Homo sapiens: one gene and its partner. The protein of the gene in region 2 interacts with the protein of the main gene of each other region in a pairwise test. Each region holds a gene or a part of one and is shown on either strand. Other genes may lie near its edges.

The links.
Region 1: the proteins of BMS1 (region 2) and RCL1 interact in binary tests that used the Homo sapiens proteins (3 or more experiments, as listed by UniProt).

The regions. Positions count from the first base shown.
Region 1 is NC_000009.12:4,786,990-4,797,703, reverse strand, and holds the start of RCL1 (RNA 3'-terminal phosphate cyclase-like protein), read right to left. Parts: upstream 4,761-10,714; 5' UTR 4,613-4,760; coding exon 4,477-4,612; intron 1-4,476. UniProt on the Homo sapiens protein: As part of the small subunit (SSU) processome, it plays a role in 40S-ribosomal-subunit biogenesis in the early pre-rRNA processing steps at sites A0, A1 and A2 that are required for proper maturation of the 18S RNA.
Region 2 is NC_000010.11:42,776,270-42,787,094, reverse strand, and holds the start of BMS1 (ribosome biogenesis protein BMS1 homolog), read right to left. Parts: upstream 4,301-10,825; 5' UTR 4,265-4,300; exon of another isoform or gene 4,097-4,264; intron 2,734-4,096; 5' UTR 2,701-2,733; coding exon 2,525-2,700; intron 1,614-2,524; coding exon 1,423-1,613; intron 1-1,422. UniProt on the Homo sapiens protein: GTPase required for the synthesis of 40S ribosomal subunits and for processing of pre-ribosomal RNA (pre-rRNA) at sites A0, A1, and A2.

The DNA of each region.
Region 1 (10,714 bases), on a different chromosome or scaffold from region 2:
GGGAAAAGAAAAGGTTTAATTACTACTGTCAAGTAGGCCAGGGTTTTTCTACATCAGCACTACTGACATTTTGAATGGATAATTCTTTGTTGTGGGAGGCTGTCCTGTAGGATATTTAGCAGCACCCTTGGATTCTAACCACTAGAGGCCAGTAGCATTCCCCTCTGCCAAGCTGTGACAACCAAAAATGTCTCCAAATGCTCCCAAATGTCCCCCACTGAACAAAAGTGCCCCTGGTTGAAAACTACTGTGCTTTACATATAACATAGAAATACGTGGAAACAACCACCTAGGAGAAGAACTTTACAGAAGGCATAATTCTCTTCAAATATCTGAAAAATTTCCATATAGAAGCAGGAACGGATTTGGCATGCCAGGGAGCAGACCTATACCCAGTGGGTTCAAGCTACATAATAATAAAATCAGCTAACATTTATTCTTCCTATGTGCCAGGCACTGTTCAGTACACTTTGAAGTATTATTTCATTTAGTCCTCACAATAACCCTGTGAAGTCAGTAGTACTGGCCCCACTTTACAGGTGAAAAAGTTGAGGCTCAGAAGAGAATAGTTAAAATAATTTGCCCAAGGACCAAGAGCTAATAGCGAAAGGCAGAACTCGTACTCAAACCAAGGTCCAATACTGACCCCAAGCTCTTAATTGCCAAGTATTATGACCATGACAAATTAAGGATTTTACCTCAGTAAAATAAAGAAAATAAAGAACTTTTTGACTTAAAAACTGTTTCTTTCATATGGAGATTTCTCAAAGAACTAAAAATAGAACTACCATATGGCCCAGCAATTCCACTACTGGGTATCTACCCAGAGGAAAAGACATCATTATACAAAAAAGGCACCTGTACTTGTATGTTTATTGCAGCACTATTCACAATACCAAAGTGATGGAACTAACCTAAGTGTCCACCAATGGTTGACTAGATAAAGAAAATGTGGTATATATACACTATGGAATACTACACAGCCATAAAAAAGAATGAAATCAGGCTGGGCATGGTTATTCATGCCTGTAATCCCAGCAATTTGGAAGGCTGAGGCAGGACGACTGCTTGAGTCCAGGAGTTCAAGACCAGCCTCGGCAACATAGACAACACCCCATCTCTACAAAAAAAATTTTAAAAATCAACTAGATGCTGTGGTACACATCTGTAGTTCCAGCTACTCAGGAAGCTAACGTGAGAGGATCACCTGAGCCCAAGAGGTTGAGGCTACAGTGAGCCATGATCACACCACTGCACTCATGACAGAGTGAGACTCTGTCTCAAAAAAAAGAATGAAATAATGTCCTTTGCAACAACATGGAGCTAGAGGCCATTATCCTAAGAGAACTAATTCAGAAACAGAAAATCAAATACTCCATGTTCTTACTTATAAGTGGGAGCTGAACAATGGATACACATGGACTTAAACATGGAAATAACAAACATTGGGGACTGGAAAAGGAGGAAGATTGAGGGAGATTGAAAAATTACCTATTGGGTACGATGTTCACTATTTGGATAATGGGTACACCAGAAGCCCAGTCCCCACCAGTAGGCAATATATCCATGTAACAAACATGCACATGTACCCCCGACTCTAAAATAAAATTTCTTTAAAAAAAGAACTGTTTATTTTGCAAACAATGATTTCCGCAGCCACCATCTCAATCCTATCTGTCCAGATCAGGTCCAGAAAACCTGCCTTCCTTCGTAACTTTCAGGGAAGTGTCTGCTCTGAACTCCACTGAGCCCCTGTACAATACTCAATCCTTCCTACTTCAAGTTACTCAAACTTAGTAACATCCTACTTACATGACAAGCTCCATGAGAACAGGGGCAACCAGCTTCTCACATATATTACACTCACCCCCATACAAAGCCTTGCACATACTGTGGCTCAATAAACACTTTCTAAATAAATGTTCCTGAGGCCGAAAGCCTCCCATACTATCCCTACCCTCCAAAGCCCACACCATGAGGGATGTTTTAAGCAAGCACCTTGAAGAGATGTGATTCTTGCATTAGAACTGAAGATTTTATTGGATATGCTCTGAGTTTTTTCCAACTCTGAGAATCTGAGTTAGGAAAAGTCAGAAAGGGACAGATGACGGGCAACATAGGCTTCCGGCTACATCTTCAATCAAGCTACCAAGGACTCCCTTGATTATGACCAGAAATCATGTGTCAGGGACTACATCTATTTATGCGTGCACGTATATGTATATACACTTACATGTATGTGTATACATATACACATATACATGTATATCTGCAAATGCATATCTATCTCTCTGTTCCCTCTGTAAGAAATTAAGCAGACAGGCTGGGCGCAGCGGCTCACACCTGTAATCCCAGCACTCTGGGAGGCCAAGGCAGGCGGATCACCTGAGGTCAGCAGTTTCATACAGCCTGGCCAACATGGTGAAACCCCATCTCTACTAAAAATACTCTACTAAAAATTAGCTGGGCATGGTGGCAGGCACCTGTAATCCCAGCTACGAGGGAGGCTGAGGCAGGAGAATTGCAGGAACCCAGGAGGCGGAGGTTGCAGTGAGCCGAGATCGCACCACGGCACTCCAGCCTGGGAGACAGAGTAAGACTCTGTCTCAAAAAAAAAGAAAGAAATTAAGCAGACAAACATCTACAAGGTTTCTGAGGCCCTGAAGCCAGCGCAAGGATGTACAAATAACTAGGAGTCTCTTTCTTCCCCTGGTATATGAACGGGGTAAGGCAAATAATGCTCTACAGTAATGTTCCCCATAAAATACCAGCACACCTGCCAAGCAGTTCTACCTCCCTCAGGTATCAGCGTCTGACACCCTTTCAAGAAAGTGCCAAGTGGCCAAGCCCTGTTCTTGGAAGAAACGGGAGCTCATATGTGTGAGATGCTTTGAAGAGATGCTCACATACAGTGGAGGGGGAGAAGGAGAAGCATACTTTGGAACATTAAATATTAAATTGGAGGCCACCTGTCAATAGAAAAACTCTAAATAGAACTAGATTCATTTTAGAGAACCCAGGTTTCCAGGCTATACTTCCATTTCTCTGGAAAAAAAAAAAAAAGTTATGCCTACTTTTATACAAAGTAGAAGTCCATCTTCTTACCATATCCAGCTAGTGGCAAGTTCTCTGAGCTAACCTGAGGGTAAAGTGGATGGAGAGCTGGCTGAGAATGCCACACAGCAATCAAGCAAACACTTTGCCCAAGGGTCAAACTAAGTGGAACACTTGTTGACGGAAAAGTCGTGGCATAAACCATTTGTGGTCTCTCCCTAACTTTCTCAGTGTTTTTGAGCAGTAGAGAGAGGACAGGAACCACCAACACAAGTTTTTCCTACCATCACTAGGTTTCTCACCACTGTACCTGGGATATTCTGCTTCTTTCCTTCCTAACCTATCTCCGTCAATAGCATGGCATCTTCTGCCCTTTATGTGCAGCCAATCACCACCCAAGAGAGGCAGAGATCTAACTATCCAAAAAATGCATTCAGACAGATAAAACAAGAGCCAGTGCAAAATGAAACACATCAGCGCCGCTCAGGAAGCTTCCAGGACCAACCACAAACACTCTTTTTCAATTTACAGACAGGTTTTTTCCTTTTTCACCTGACTACTGACTCGCCCAACTTGGGATAACCACCAGTCAGAAGCTTTTAAATGCATGTATCTCATGCCAGGGGGCCAGGTGTAAACCAAGGCCAGTTGAAAACCGGCGCCATTTAATGAGATGTGGGTTTAAATGGGCCTATTTCTTTTTAACCTACCATTGCAGAGCAAGAAGTGAGCTTGGAAGCCTGCAGTTTAGCGATTGTCACCGACCCCTTTTCTAAAGTCAAGGCAATTAGGCCCATGACTGTTAAAAGTCTATCTCAAAGCTCCTGTCCTGCGCACATCAATCACAGTCACGGCTGAAAACAAACACAGAATTTTAAAAATTTCTTTATCCACACCCAAGGACAAGTGTGAGGGCAGCCGAGAAATCATGGCGACAGGAACAGCCGGTGTCCAAGGGGGCAGCTGCTTCTGAGAACTGCTTTGAGACAGGGCAGAGAACCAACCCAAGGTACTTTTCTCTCCCAATGTCTCTCCCCCGGCTCATTCACCATATTTCGGTCCAACAAACTGTTTTTCTCCTTTGAGAGGTTTATGGCGAGGGCAAGAGGGGCCGAAGGGACGCGAAGGGGCGACGCCAGGGATTTGTTGCTACACGTAAAGCTGGAAAACGTGCAGCTGTTTACTACCAGCGCCCCGGAGACGCCGAGCGCAGCTTGCAGCTGAGCGCTCCCCTCGGGCCCCGACCCCGCCTCCCCCACTGTGCCTGCCCCTCCGGCTTTGGAGGCGACGCGCCACCTGCCCTCCCCGACGCGCTCGCCGGACGCCGAGCCGCCCAACCAACACCGCGCGGGCCCCCACGGCATCAGCTCGGTCTCCCCTCAGCCCCCGCGCCCACGCCGCGCGCCGCCCACACCAAGTTACCTCGGAGGCCCGGGTTGTCGTCTCTGGCCCGAATCTTTCGGATTTTGACGGGGCGCCCGCTCAGGGTAGACAGGACCAGACGTTGGCGCAAGAAGTTGCACCCTGCGTAGCTGAGGGAGTGCGCCTGAGTCGCCATGTGCGCGCTCTCCGAAGAGACGTGAGCAGCCCGAGAGCGGCGACTTCGGACAGACGCGGGACTCGTGACTCCGATGGTGGTGGTGGCGGCGACACCGACGGCGGCGGCTCGGGCTGCCTCCAGCAGCCCAGACGCGTCCACGTGGTTTGGAACAGGAAGACGGAGAGACTAGACACCGGGTCAGAGGGGAGCGGGGCGGAGCCAGTGGCCACCTCCCCGCCTCCCCGCCCGACCGGGGCGGCCCCCGCTTCGGGCCACGCCGCTATTGGCCCGCGCCGGATCAGGGCGGTGCCCGCGCCGCGCCTCCATTGGCTTCCGCTGAAGCTGGGCGGTGCCCAAGCCGCGCTGCCATTGGTCCGTAGTGGAGCTGGGCGGTGCCCGGGCCCTGGCAACAGCGCGCGGCTGGAGGGAACGCGGGAGGATGGCCAGGGAACCCCGGCGCGGGAGTTGCCAGTCGGGGCAGTCTCCTCTGTGTACCTCCTGGCGTGGTAGCAAGGGGAGATGGCGGACTGAGATTGATGCCTACGACGTGCCGGATTCTTAGCATTACTACTTACGGCAACTACTGGGGTGAAGATGCTATTATCTACCCCTCCTCTTTCTTACTAAGAGAGACAACAAGGGTTGGTGCACTCACCCTATCGCAGGGATGCCGCTCAGCGCACTGCCGGCGCAGTCCCGCAGCTCCATGCTGTAACCCTGCAAGGTAGAGCCATCCTGTCCTACTCATGGATAAAGGCTCGAGGAATATTGCAAAGCTGACAGTGGCAGCCTATACTGAGACCCGAATCCTCCCACAGCAGGCCGTTGCTTATTTTATTGAGACACCTCTTTGCCCCTTTCTCACGGGTCCCTTCGTTTATCGTCATTGCGTTTCATGGCAATTCAGGCCCTCCTACCTCGCATGCTTCAAGATAGATAGTTGTAATAACTTCACACACACACACGCGCGCAATGCTTTTTCCCTCTTTCCCGTCCTCCTCCAATCCTGCACAAGAAAATCTTCCCAAACGTTGGATTATTTCACTTCTCTACTCAAAAACCTTCCAAAATGTACAGTTAACTAACAAATGACTACACAAGTAGAAGTCCGATATCATAGTAATGTGGGTTTGTAGCCATTCCTGGACAACACTCACCAAACCATGAGTCCCAGAATGCACGGGGGTTCGCGGGGGGAAGGGGGGCGGGGTATGATAGTGTCTGAAAGCGGTGGGAGTTTAAGATTAAGGGATGTAGCTAGCCTTATGTAGACAACAGTGTGTTATAAAGTGGAGTGGAGTGGCATGCTCATGACTCACTGCAGCCTCAACTTCCCGAGTTCTAGTAATCCTCCAACCTCAGCCTCCCCATTAGCTGGAACTACAGGTGTGCACCACCATGCTCAGCTAATTTTTGTATTTTGTATAGACATGGGTTTTTGCCATGTTACCCAGGCTGGTCTCAAACTTCTAACCTCAAGCGATTGGCCCACCTTGGCCTCACAAGTGTGAGCCACCACTCCCAGCCTTTAATCCATTTTTCTTTGATTTTTGTAAATGGCAAGAGATAGAGATCTAGTTTCACTCTTTTGCATATGGATATCCAATTTTCTCAGCATCATTTATTGAAGAGACTGTCCTTTCCCCAGAGTATGTTCTTGGCAACTTTGTCGAAAATGAGTTTACCGTAGCTGTGTGGATTTATCTCTGCGTTCTCCGCTCTGTTCTACTGATCTATGTGTCTGTTTTTATGCCAGTACCATGCCATTTTGTTTACTCTAGCTCTGTAGTATAATTTGAAGTCAGGTAATGTGATTCCTCCAGTTTTGTTCTTTTTGCTTAGGACAGGTTTGGCTATTCTGGGTCTTTTGTGGTTCCATATAATTTTTTTAATTTTTAATTTTTGTAGGTAGATGGTACATGTATATATGAGGTACGGGAGAAGTTTTGATACAGGCATGCAATGTGTGATAATCACATCCTGAAGGATAGGGTACTCATCCCCTCATGCATTTTATTCTTTGTGTTATTATACAAACAAAACAATTATACTGTTTTAGTTATTTTTAAATGAAAATTAAATTATTGTTGACTACAGACACCTTGTTGTGCTATCAAATAGTAGATCTTATTCTTTCTAATTTTTGTACACATTTATTATCCCCACCTGCCCCCCAACATCCCCACCCCCTCTATGTTTTCCAGTCTCTAGTAACCATCCTTCTACTCTCTATTTCCATGAGTTAAATTGTTTTGATTGTTTGATCCCACAAATAGGTGAGAACATGTGATGTTTTTCTTTCTGTGCCTGGCTTATTTCACTTAACATAATGATCTCCAGTTTCATCCATGTTGTTGCAAATGACAGGATTTCATTCTTTTTTATGGCTGAATAATACTATATTGTGTATATGTATCACATTTTCTTTATCCATTCATCTGTTGATGGACACTTTGACTGTTTTCAAATTTTAGCTATTGTGAAGAGTGCTGCAACAAACATGGGAGTGCAGATATTTCTTTGATATGCTGATTTCCTTTCTTTTGGGTATACACGCAGCAGTGGGATTGCTGAATCATATGGTAGCTCTATTTTTAGTTTTTTGAGGCACCTCCAAACTGTTCTCCATAGTGGTTGCACGAATTTACATTCCCACCAACAGTGTACAAGGGTTCCATTTTCTCCACATCCTCACCAGTATTTGTTATCGCCTGTCTTTTGAATATAAGCCATCTTAACTGGGATGAGATGATATCTCAAAATGAGTAGTTTGCAGATATGTTTTCTCACTCTTTGGGTTGTCTCTTCAGTTTGTTGATTGTTTCCTTTGCTGTGCAGAAGCTTTTTAACTTGATATGATCCCATTTTTGCTTTGGTTGCGTATGCTTGTGGGTTATTAATCAAGAAATTTTTGCCTAACCAATGTCCTAGAGATTTTCCCCAATATTTTCTGTAGCCATTTCATAGTTTGAGGTCTTAGATATAAGTCTTTAATCCATTTTGATTTGGTTTTTGTACACGGCAAGAGAAAGCAGTCTAGTTTTACTCTTCTGCATATGGATATCCAGGTCTCCCAGCACCATTTATTGAAGAGATTGTTTTTTCCCCAGTGTATGTTATTGGCACCTTTATTGAAAATGAGTTCACTGTAGGGTTATAGATTTGTTTTTGGGTTCTCTATTCTGTTCCACTGGTCCATTTGTCTGTTTTTATGCGAGTACCATGCCATTTTGGTTACTATAGTATTTTTTTTTAATTTTTCTTTTTTTTTTTTTTTTTTTTTGAGACAGAGTCTCACTCTGTCACCCAGGCTGGAGTGCAGTGGCATGATCTCAGCTCACTGCAACCTCCACCTCCTACGTTCAAGCGATTCTCATGTTTCAGCCTTCTGAGTAGCTGAGATTACAGGCATGCACCAACACATCCAGCTAATTGTAGTATAATTTGAAATCAGGTAATGTGATTCCTCCAGTTTTGTTCTTTTTCTTAGGATAGCTTTGGCTATTCTGGGTCTTTTGTGGTTTTATATAAATTTTAGGATTTTTTTTCTATATCTGTGAAGAATATTATTGGTATTTTAATAGAGACTGCTTTGGGTAGTATGGATATTTTACCAATGTTGATTCTTCCAACCTGTCAACATAAAATACCTTACTATTTTTTGTGGCCTCTTCAAAATCTTACATCAATATTTTATAGTTATCATTGTAGAGATCTTTCACTTCTTAAGTTCATTTCTAGGTATTTTATTTTCTTTTTAGCTATTGTAAATGGGATCACTTTCTTGATTTCTTTTTTGGATTGTTCATTGTTGGCATAGAGAAATACTACTGATTTTTGTGTGTTAATTTTGTATCCTGCAAATTTACTGAATTTGTTTATTAGTTCTAATATTTATTTGGTGGACTTTGGGTTTTTCTAAATATAAAATTATATCATCTAAAAACAAGGAAAATTTTTTCTTCTTTCTTTCCCCTCCCTCCCTCCCGTCCTTCCTTCCTTCCTTCCTTTTCTTTCTTTTCTTTCTTTCTTTTTTCTTTCCCCCCGCCTTTTTTTTTTTTTTTTTTTTTGAGACAGGATCTCACTCGGTCACCCAGGCTGGAGTGCAGTGGCATGATCATGGCTCACTGAAGCCTCAACGCCCCAGGCCCAAGTGATCCTCCCACTTCAGCCTCCCTGGTAGCTGGGACTACAGGCATGTACAGGCATGCTCCATCACACTCAGCTAATTTTTTAATTTTTTTGTAGAGATGATATTTCACTGTGTTGCCCATGCTTGTCTCAAAGCAATCTGCCTGCCTCGGCCTCCCAAAGTTCCGAGATTACAGGCATGAGCCACCCACACCCAAGGGTAATTAAATTTCTTCATTTCCTATTTGAATCCCCTTTATTTCTTTCGCTTGTCCAATTGCTGTAGCTGCAAACTTCCAGTACTATGTTGAATAAGAGTGGTGAAAGTGGGAATCCTTGTCATGTTCTGATCAAAGAAGAAAGGTGGCCAGTGTGGTGGCTCACACTTGTAATCCTAGCACTTTGGGAGGCTAAGGCGGGCAGATCACCTAAGGCTAGGAGTTTGAGACCAGCTTGGCCAACACGGTGAAACTCCATTTGGGTGTGGTAGCATGCACCTGTAATCCCAGCTACTGGTGAGGCTGAGACATGAGAATTGTTTGCATCTGGGAGGCAGAGGTTGCAGCGAGCTGAGATCGCACCACTGTACTCCAGGCTAGGTGACAGAGCAAGACTGTGTCTCAAAAAAAAAAAAAAAGATGAAAGGCTTTCAGTTTTTCCCCATTCAGTATGATATTAGCTGTGGGTATATCATATGTGGCTTTTATTATATTGAGGGATGTCTTTCTATACTCAGTATTGTTAGGGCTTTTATGAGGAAGCGATACTGGATTTTATCAAGTGCTTTTTCAGCATCAATTGAAATGATCATTTGATCATTTTTGTCCTTCATTCTCTTGCTATGATGTATTACATTACTTAATTTGCATATGTTGAACCACCCTTGCATCCCTGGGATGAATCACACTTGGTCATGATGAATGATCTTTTTAATGTGTTGTTGAATTCAGTTTCATTGAGAATTTTTGGATCAGTATTCATCAGAAACATTGGCTTGAAGTTTGCTTTATTTGATGTGTCTTTGTCTGTTTTTGGTATCAGGGTAGTACTGATCTCATAGAATGAGTTTGGAAGTATTCCCTTCTTCTCTATTTTTTGGAATAGTGTAAGTAGAATTGGTATTAGTTCTTCTTTAAATGTTTGGTAGAATTCAGCAGCAAAACCATCAGGTCCTGGGCTTTACTTTGCTGGGAGAGTGTTTATTAATTCTATATCATTACTTGTTATTGATTTGTTCAGCAGTGAAACCATCAGGTCCTGGGCTTTACTTTGCTGGGAGACTTTTTATTAGTTCTATATCACTACTTCTTATTGATTTGTTCAGGTTTTGCATTTCTTCATAGTTCAGTTTTGGTAGGGTGTATGTGTCCAAGAATTTATCCCTTTCTTTTAGATTTTTCAATTTGTTGGTATATAGTCACTCATCATAGCCACTAATGATGCTTTGAATTTCTGCAGTGTCAGTGGTAATGTCTCTTTTTTCATCTCTAATTTTATTTATTTGTGTCTTCTCTCTCTTTTTTAGTTAGTCTAGATAAAGGTTTGTCAATTTTGTTTATGTTTTCAAAACACCAACTTTTTGTTTTCTTGATCTTTTGTTTGTTTTCTTCATTTCAAATTCATTTATTTCTGCTCTGATCTTTATTATTTCTTTTTTCTACTAATTTTGGGTTTGGTTTGCTCTTTCTTTTCTAGTTCTTTAATATGCATCATTAGGTTGTTTCTTTGAAATATTTTTTCTTTTTTTGATGTAGGCACTTATAGCTATAAATTTCCCTGTTAGTACTGGGTTTGCTGTATCCCATAGGTTTCGATATGTTGCATGTCTACTATCATTTGTTTCAAGAAAATTTTCTATTTCTTAACTTCCTCACTGACCCACTGGTCATTCAGGAGCATACTGTTTTATTTCCATGTGTTTCCAAAATTCCTCATTACTGATTTCTAGTTATATGGCATTGTGGTCAGAGAAAATGCTTGATGTTATTT
Region 2 (10,825 bases):
ATTTTTTAACTGCATCCAGTAAAACATCATATACATTTACAGGAGCATACAAGAAGTTCATTTTTACAGGCAAAAACTGATAAAATAAAATAAATTCCATTCTGTTTTTCTTGCTGTGTTCTAAATTTAAATAACATCAAAAGTCTACCCAGATGAATAAAAGTGCTCAAAAAGGGAAAATTCTGACTGCACAGACTCCATGATAACCATGATCCTGCTGTTCAGCTGCAGGCCCAATGTCTTTGCCTCTATCAAAACTTCCCGTATTCCCACTAGAGCTACAAACATCCTCAAACATAATGCAACAGAATATTCATAACAATAATTACTTCTAAATTAAGGTAAAAATAAAACAGTCAAGAAAATATGGGCTGGGCACAGTAGCTCTCGCCTGTAGTCCCAGCAACTTGGGAGGCCAAGGCAGGCGGATCCCTTGAGCCCAGGAGTTTTGAGACCAGCCTGGGCCATATGGGGAAACCCCATCTCTACAGAAAAAAAAAAAAAAGGAAAAAAAAGAAAAATTAGCCAGGCGTGGTGGCATACACTACTCAGGAGGCTAAGGTAGGAGGAATGCTTGAACCTGGGAGGTAGAGGCTGCAGTGAGCCGTAATCACACCACTGCACTCCAGCCTGTACCACAGAGTAAGACTCTGTCTCAAAAAAGGGAAAAGAAAATATGGATGCTCCAAAGATAAAGAAAAGCCTCAATCCAACTATATTATTGCAATAACAAGAGATTTCAGAGTGTACATTGCCATTCTACCACTGGAAGTTTGTTTCATTTTCCCTCAAACTCGGAAAGGTCACCATCTCCCAAAGCAGACAATTCTCACAGGAAAAAGAGAAAACTCGCACTTCCACCAGAATGTGGCTTCATAAGGCAAGCATATGCACCTGGCACATAGGAGGTGCGTGCTATCTGTTAAATGATGTGTTCACGGTGACTAGGCCTGCTAGGCCCTTCCAAGGAACATGTTTGGCAAAGCCAAAGAGCAGTCAGGATAAGACATAGTGAACATTATCATTTCTCATACAAAAAATGGAGGAGGAAACCAGGAAGAAAAGGAAAGCATCACCTTAAGAGGCTGGACCACACATCCTTCTACACGGAGGAAGAGGACTGTGGCTGGTGTCGCAATCGAGCAGCAAAGCTTGATTTTCCAGCCCGAGTGCTGGGTTCGAGTATCTTCCTGCCTTGGAACCTCCCAGAGTGCTGGGAGGAAATGTGAACATTATCACATCCTTATCTCTGGGAACTTACCCTTTTCTGAAGCTATAGCCAACTTAGTAATACTAAGTATAAGAGAAGTCCCATGATATGACAATATTTAACATGTTCCACTCAAGAAAACAACAAACGCATGCATGTCCCTCAGATGACAACAGCCACGCCAACTCTGTGTCTGTGGTGGCATCTCCTACCTGACACAATCGTCACAGGGCCTCTGATCTCAGTCAACTTCTGCCGGGTAAAGTTCCGAATGAGGCATTGTATCAAAGTGCTCTTTCCAACTTTTGGAGGTCCCATCACCACTACCACTATTGGTGGGGGCTCTAGTGGAGTTCGATCAACCACTGGAATATGATGCTTTTTTGTCTTCAAATCCTGAGTCCTATTCATTAAAAAATAAACAAATAAATAAATAGTAAACTCATTTTCAAAATAGAGTAAAAGGTATCAACCTTATAAGTAGACTTTTTTGGTACACTTATAGCTATGAGTACTTTAGCACATTTTATAGAGAGTACAACAGACAATATATAAATATAATTAACTTGTCAATTATTAACTTGCTAACTTCTGGCCCCATCCAAATAATTGCTGTTCAATAAAGATGTAACAAGATGACTTCAATACTATAGAGAGCGAAAATTAAACACTCCTTAAATCTGACTGTTTTAAGAGTGATTTTAATAGTTTTTTAAAAAACCAAAAGGTAAATAGCGAGGCAGTACATCATAGCAGATAAGAGCAGAGGCGCTGGAGTTACATTTAGCTCTCCTACTTACTGGTTATATGATTGGAGGTAACTTGTTTTCTTGATCTCAGTTTTCTTACCCATAAAATGAGGGCAAGAATGATTCCTACTCTGGTAAGGCTGCTGGAAGGATTTAGTTGAATAATGTTTAAAGTACACTGCTAGGCATATCACAAGGGCTCACTAAATAAAGCTATGTTAGTATTAAATATTGTAATTTTTGTATTTTATATTACAACTATGTAAAACATACCTGGGGGGAAAAAGCACACTTATCACCATAGAAACAGTTTAAAATTTAGGAACAAACAAAGTCTATAAATTCTTGTATCCTGGGCAATAAACACTAACCAGTATGCAGATGCTGGAGGCAAGGCAGCTTCTATGGGAAAAGCTTCTCACGTTTTAGTGAAAGCCACACACCATGAATCTCCATGTCCTTTGGAGCTGGACTAGACTCGTGAATCCAAATGTCACCTGTGAGAGGCTCCTACTATTTAAAAAAAGAATCAATGGAAGAATGACCAGACCGTAGCCTAACATACCTGTGAAAGGATCGAGCCATCCGCACAGCAGACTGAACTGCAAAAGCTTTGGGATTTCTCTTCCGGGCATCTTCTTCGTCTCCTAGCTGGAGATCCTGCAGAAGCCGCTTCTTTTTCTTTGCAGCTTTGGGTCCACTGTTTTTCTTTCTGTGTTTCTTCTGGTCCTTAGCCTCCATAGTGGCTATTTACCAATAACAAGTAACTCTAACCTACAAGGAAGAAGGTTGGGGTAAGGAGATGGGAGAAGCATTTTACAATCCAGGCAATACCCAGGGAAAAACAGTAAATTTCATTTATTTCTTTATGAAGAGATGATGTATTTGTTCACTGAACAAGGGTAGAAACTGCTTAACCATCCCCAATTTCATTTCTCTCTGTTATGCTATAAATTAGATGAGTTACCTCTCTTAAGATTACATTTTATGGTTAAGTTACTTTTTATTCATCTTAAGTGTCAACATCAGCAGTATCTATTTCTGCAAGGATAGAAATATACTATATCTGTACTTTTCAGCCATTTAGCCATTAGCCACATGTGGTTACTTACAATATACTTAGGGAAACTGAAAAAATGAGTTTTTAATTAATTTCATTCTAACTCCAAATAGTCACATGTGGCTACCATACTGGACAGCTCAGACCCAGGTATCAACTGGACTGATGAAGTGGTTTCCTAACTTAAACTAAAACTTAAATTTTAATAAAAAAATGTGAAACGTTTTTATGAACCTCCAATATGATCGCAGTATTACTTTTAGTACCTGTTGACTCTGTAAAACTCCTAAATTACAACTTATCTACATACATTTGAAAAATAGAAATAGCTGTACGTGTGAGATAGGACTGGTTCTAGATGACACCTGGAGACCCCATGAACTTACAGAGACCCTTCCAGTGATTTCTGAGTTACCTGGGAATCTGTGGCTAATAAATTGGCAATCACTGAATTAGTGAGTTATTTTAGGAAATCGGGCTGCATAAAATCTGACAGCTTGATTAAAAAAAAAAAGCGGAGCAGGATGCCATTTCATTCAATTAAGGTACTGTATTCATTCCGTTGAATAAATATTTGTGTCTGTCTACGATGTGCTAGGCACTGTGCCAGTAAGTGGATACAGCTATTATCTGACTTGCAGAGGAAATCCAAACTATTATCTTCCGCGCCACGCAATAAGGGCGACATTGGAAGGCTGCACAGGGTGCTACTGGAGCACGGAGGTGAGTCAGAGGCTTCCCACAGACACACACCAGCGGAAACAAAGTCTTTATGTATTACCATAATGTCAAGAACACTGGCCAGGAGTTAGGAGAGCTGGGCGCTAGGAACGCTTTGAAACCGAATAGCTGTGTGATTTCAGAGATTATGTTTCTTCTCTGCTATATTTTAGTTCAGCACTTGTACTAATGTTTCTCTCCCTGTCTTTCTTCTTGGTGGGAAAAGCACAATTTGGGGTCAACAGATCCAGCTCAGGTCTAAGTCTCCTACCGGGACCACGTCGCCAGGAAACGACGTCGCCCAGCCACCTTCCCTCCCCGTCTGGGCTCTCTGCAGGGATTCATCACGTCACTCACCCAACTACCCCAGGACACCTCCGCCAGATGAGAAATATGCCGCTCCTCGGGAGCAAAGATGACCCGGAGGACCGGGGGAGGACCTTCCCACACGCACGACTCGCGATCTTCCCAGTGCCCCAGAACCAGGGACCCCACCGCCGCCTACCCCAACCCGCAGCACCGAACCTGCTCGCAGCCGCGACTCCTCAGGTCAGCATGGACACCGCCGGAAACGGAAATTCACAGTCGCGCTGACTCGCCGGAGGGAAACAAGAAGGCAGAAAAAAGAGACCGGCATGGGGACGGCTTTCAGGGGAGAGCCTGAAGAAAGAGGGCTGAACAGCTGAGTGCGGACGCAGGCGCCGTCCGCGCAGTGCGTTCCACCGGGTCCAGGTCCTTCCAGATTCCTCTCCACCCCGCCCTCGGAATCCGCGGCCTCAACTTCCGCGGTGGGACTCCGGAGCAGCGTGCGCCGCGCTCGCCTGAGTTCTCGCCGAAGGCCAGGGCGGCTCTGCGGCCTGGCGCCGGTTAGTTAGTGTGGTGCAAAAGCCGGAAGGAGACACATTTGGTCCTGGCCTCCCGGCAGTCACCGTGCCAAGGACGAATGGACTATCGCTTGATTTGGAGTACACTTCCTCCTCTTTAAAGATTACAGATGAGGGGGATCTCGCGTTCTGGGGTGCCCTAAAGCCCTCTTTTGGCAGGGCGCAGTGGCTCACGCCTGTAATCCCTACACTTTGGGAAGCCGAGGAGGGAGGATTGCTTGAGCCCAGGAATTCAAGACAAGCCTGGGCAACATAGGGAGCCTACCTCTCTCTCTTAAAAAAAAAAAAAAAAAAAATTAGCCGGCATCGTGCCGGGCGCCTGTGGTGCTTGTGGTCCCAGCTACTCTGGAGGCTGAGGTGGGAGGATCGCTTGATCCCAGGAGGCGGAGTCTGCAGTGAACTGAGATGAGCCACTGGACTTCAGCCTGGGCAACAGAGCAAGACACTGTCTCTAAGAAAAATAAATAACATAAGGCCCTCTTTTGCCAGGACCAACAAACCGTGAGGGCAGGGACAAACTGACCCAGCCTAAACTGCCTCGCCCTCCCTAAACCCGGGAAAGGGGCTTTACCTGAGTGAACGTAGCATCTTGCCGTTTTCTTACTGCACAGCTTTACCTTCCCAGGGATCCGCCCATTGCCACCTGAGGAAATGCCTTGGAGTCCATCTAATCCCCAGCCCAGCTACTTGGGAGCCTACAGAGCGTACATTGTCAGAGGATGCATCTTCCTTTAGTCTTGGAGGGTTTCTTTTCAATATGATCCCGCTGGTGCATTCAAGGCTCAATTCTACACCAAAAACTAGGCCCACTCCTGTCACGAGAACCCCAGGCGTCAGGTCTTCTCACAGGCACCTTGTTCTTGCCCTCAGCAGCCCCCAGGTATTCACTCTGCATATTCTAGATACTGGGTGCTGGACTTGGGAGGCTACCCACGTGGCACATGCTTCCCTTATCCCTGAAGAGCTTAGAGTGTTGTAACTTCTTCACACTACACCTCTTACTTCTTGAAGATTTCAGTATCCAGGTAGATAATCCTTCCAACATCCTTTTGGTCTCATGAAGCCCACTCCTGTCCTCTGCCCTACCTCAGCTTCCCCCTCCCTCCATGATCAGACCTTAGACCTTGTCAGGTCCAAGGACTGCAACCCCCACAGTATCCCACTCTGACCAGGTCTATCTATCCTCCTATCTGTCCAGGTCACTCCCTATACTGCCCTGAAACAAAACTCCTGCAACCTTACCAGCACCTCCAATCAAGATCTTACTACTTGTTCACTGTTTCTTCCTTTATGACCCTCTCTAGTGAGCCAGCTTAAACTCAATGGCCAACCATTCTCATTGATCCCTTGCACACCTCCTCAACTCATGCACCTCCCTGTCATCTCCTATCTGCTTGGTAAGATGGGAGCCCTGGATAAACCCAGCTCTCCATCTATTCCATGCCACGACGATGCAACTAAACATGGCTGGAGGAAAACAGGACCATGCCAGCCGTCCTCACTTTAATCATTCTTTGCCTGGTCTATTCAATCTCCCATTGTTCCAAGTGAGTATTTCGCACTTCCTCCTCTCTGTTCAATCCTTCCCACTGCCTCTCCCTTCCTTGCCTCCTGCTTTGCTAAGAGAATAGAAGTGGTAAAAGTCTTCCACAGACTCCCACGTCCACCTCCACCCATCCGCCTCTTATTGCCTCCCTGTGACTGTGGATGAACAACTGCTAGGTCCACCCAAAGAATCCTGCACTGGACTGCTGGATCCCATCATCTCTTACTGCTCCAGGGTGTCACTCCAGCCAGCCTATCCTCTCTGCAACATCAGCAATATTTTCCTTTCTACTGGACTCTTCTCATCGTCACATAACATGCAGCTATTTCTCTCATCTTCAAAACAAAGAAATTACTCGACCCTATTTCCTATACCAGGACCTGCACCTTTTCTATGTTCCCCTTTGCAGCAAAACTTCACAAAAGAACAGTCAATACATACTCTGGCCCCTCTCCTATTCACTTTGATTCACTTGTCTCACAGGACTCCACCTGCAGCCCTGGATGCTCTTTCTCAGCTGCTTTTGCTGGTTCCCCTGCTCTCACCTGTTTAAATTAGAGTGAGGCCATAGGTTTCGGGCTTCAGTTTTCTTTTCTTCTGTGTCTATACTTATTCCCTGGATGATCTAATTCTGTCTCAGTTTTATATGCCATCTGTATCAGTTATTGATATGTTTTGGGTCTGTCCCTGCCCAAATTTCGTGTGGAATTGTAATCCCCAATGTTGGAGGTGGGGCCTGGTGGGAGGTGATTGGATCATGGGAGCAGAGTCTTCATGAAAGGTTTAGCACCATTCATCTAGTGCTGTTCTCATGATAGAGTTCTCACAAGATCTGGTTGTTAAAAAGTGTGTAGCACCTCCCCCCACCACCTTTTCCTGCTCCAGCCATGTAAGACATGCCTGCTTCTCCTTCACCTTCCACCATGATTGAAAGTTTCCTGAGGCCTCCGCAGAAGCTGTCATGCTTCCTGTACAGCCTGCAGAATCGTGAGCCAATTAAACCTCTTTTCTTATAAATTGCCTAGTCTCAGGTACTTCTTCATAGCAGTGAGAGAACGGACTAATACAGTTATCAATTTATTGCATCTCTGCTACAAACTCATTCTTCATTGCCTGCTCTGCAAAAATGGAACTGGGCCATTTAAATATTTTCCTCTGACATTATGTTAGGTTTTGTCAGTAGAGAGCAATGGAGAGACTTTGTGGGCGAAAGCAGTCTTTGTTCCTGGTTCTCCTATGCTCCCTGGCCTGGCTCCTGCAGGTGGGTGACTTCTCCAGAAACACAGTGGCCAGTGCCCAGCAGGTCCCACTCCCCTCACCAGCTCCAGGCAGTTTTGTTATAGAGTAACTCTTTTGAGACACCGCTCCTTTCCCCAGCACCTAAAGAAGTATTTCTAGTAAGTTCCAGTGGTATAGCACCAGTGACTCTCCTGACATGCAGAGGGCCATAGCTGGGTTCCTCTGATGAGGTGTAGGGGCAGTGCACTAGGAGGAGAGGACTCTCCTGGGCTCTCTACCTCAGCCCTAGGCTAGTGGTTGCTCCTCCTATACTTCCTACTAGTCTGTGCCTGGTTACTCCACTTCCCTGTTGCAATTAACACTTCTTTATATACATGTTTCCTGTTCAAATGACTGTGTAGCTTCTCTTTCCTAATTAGACTCTGACCAATACACTATCATTTGCCAACAACTCCCAAAGTTTTATCAATGACTCAGACCTCTAACCTGAACTCCAGCTGCCTCCATGACATATCCATTTGGATATTTAATAGACATTTCCAAAGTGATGTGCCAAACAGAACTCAGGATCTTCCCTCTCAAACCAACTGCTCAGCAGTCTTTTTTTTTTTTTTTTTTTTTTTTTTTTTTTTTTTTTTTTTGAGACGGAGTCTCGCTCTGTCGCCCAGGCTGGAGTGCAGTGGCGCGATCTCGGCTCACTGCAAGCTCCGCCTCCCGGGTTCACACCATTCTCCTGCCTCAGCCTCCCTAGTAGCTGGGACTACAGGCGCCCGCCACTACGCCCGGCTAATTTTTTGTATTTTTAGTAGAGACGGGGTTTCACCGTTTTAGCCGGGATGGTCTCGATCTCCTGACCTCGTGATCCGCCCGCCTCGGCCTCCCAAAGTGCTGGGACTACAGGCGTGAGCCACCGCGCCCGGCCATCAGCAGTCTTATAATCTCAGTTGATGGCAATTCCATCCATAAAGATGATTAGTCAAAATGCCTCCCACACACCTTTGTCTATTCGCTTTTTCTATCCTCCATTTCCAATCCATCAGAAAATTCCTGTTGACTCTACCTTTGAAGTACAACCAGAATCCAACCACTTGTCACTACTTCCACTGCTACCCCTTTGGGCTGTGCCCCATGCAGTCACACATGGATGACTGCGAAACCTTTCCCTTGGCCTCCCTGCTCCCACCTTTGCCCTTAAACAGTCAGTTTTCAATGAAGCAGCCAGAGGGCTCCTGTTAAAACATAAGGCACCATTGGTAATCTAAATTGGTAGAAATGCTTTGGAAATGGTTCAGCATGTCTATTATTACTGAGCATGCACTTACCTATGAGCCAGCAACAGAAGTAGATACAGAAAGGCACATAGGAATGTTTGGCTGGGCGTGGTGGCTCACGCCTGTAATCCCAGCACTTTGGGTGGCCAAGGAGGGCAGATCACGAGGTCAAGAGATCGAGACCATCCTGGCCAACATGATGAAACCCCATCTCTACTAAAAATACAAAAAATTAGCTGGGCTTGGTAGCACACACCTGTAGTCCCAGCTACTCGAGAGGCCAAGGCAGGAGGATCGCTTGAACCTGGGAGGCAGAGGTTGCAGTGAGCCGAGATTGCGCCACCGCACTACAGCCTGGCAACAGAACAAGACTCCGTCTAAAAATAAAAAAGGAATGTTCATAGCATTATCCAAACCGGGAAAAACCCAGACATCCACCAGCAAAAACCTAAAGACAAAACTGTAATATATATTTGCAATGGAAGGATATAGAACAATGAAAATAACCACCACATGCACCAACACAGAGGATACTTAGCGAAAGAAGCCAGACACAAAGAAGAACATACCAGATGATCCATTCAAAGCTTGAACCCAGGCAAAATTAACGTGTGGCAACAGAAGTGAAGATAATTGTGACTTTTGTGGAGGAGGGAATGTACGACTGGGTGAGGGCTGTTCTGTTGCTTGTGCTAGCTGATGAGTGTGTTTACTTTGTAACAATTTACTGAGCTTTAATGTGGCAAACTGTGCTCCTAGCTATTTAGCCAACTGATTTGAAACTTTTGTCCATACAAAAATATGTATAGCAGCTTTATTCATAACTACCCCAAAGTGAAGTCACTAAGATATCTTTAAGCAGATGAATGGATGAACACACTGTGGTATCCATACAATGAAAATCATTTGGCAATAAAAGGAAGTGAGCTATTGATTCACACTATAACATGGATGGATTTTAAATGCATTTTGCTAGTGAAAAGCCATCCCCAAAGGTTCTGTTTATATTACATTCCAGAAAATGAAAAACTGTAGGGATGGAAAACAGATTGGCAGTTGCCAGGGGCTGAGGAAAAGGACAGATTAACTACATAGAGGATGCACGAGAGAATTTTAAGGAGATGGAACTGTTCTGTATCATACTGAGGAAGTGCTTACATGACTGTATCCTGATCAAACCCATAGAACCATACATGAGGAAGGGGGATCTTTAATGTATGAGAAATTTAAAAATTAACCAAGATGTCTGGAGAATCCCAGGATGGAATGCAGCTTGTAACAAATGACCTAACTGAACTATAAATGTATGACATAATGTCACTGGAGCATGTGGAGAAAAAACAAACTGGCCTAAGTAACTTTGGAAAGTGATATTATGACTAGAAACTGAAAGGCTAAGGATAAAAGGAATTGTCCACAAACATTGTACTATAGTTGGTAAATTTGTTTCTCCAAGGGATATGCACTAACAAGTCAGAGATGGCTTTACCTGCATATTAAGGTTGAATAAATGAGTCATGGATAGTGAGAGCCAGATTTCTCACTGTTGGAGAGAGAAGTCACAGTGAGCAAGCTAGAATGAACATTGTGGTACTGGATTAGAGTCAAAATTGTGTGTGTGTGTGTGTGTGTGTCTTAGCTCTGTTTGCCTAGTATGCCCAAAAGCAATGACATCCTAGCATTAGTGTGCACACTGAGCTCCCAGATCTCGGTTTCTAAAACCATTCCCCAATAAAAGGAACCAAAGCTCCTTGGAGAAATGGCTGAGTCTAGGGCTAGGGTAGGAAATATGTAAGAGGAGCCTGAAGCATCTTGCAGTGCCAGAAAGTAAGGAATTGCTACAAACTGAAGGATATTGGTGTGTCAAAAAGGCCAGAAGCCAACTGAATGAGCTCCCAGTGGCTGAGCTCCCACCAGGGTGAGCTGGTGGGAGGCAGGGTCTGGGTGAGAGGTCTGGTGGGAGCTGAGGGCATCACGTAACTAACCAGGGAAATCCTTGGAATGGGAATGAGGCTGGCAGAAACAAGAAATTGGCAGAATGTTTAGGAGAAGCATGCATTGGGTGGACATTCGTGTTGAGAAAAAGAATGACAGGGCAAGGGTATTAATCAGACGTGGCAGAAATGGAGGCAGAGGATGGAAGGTT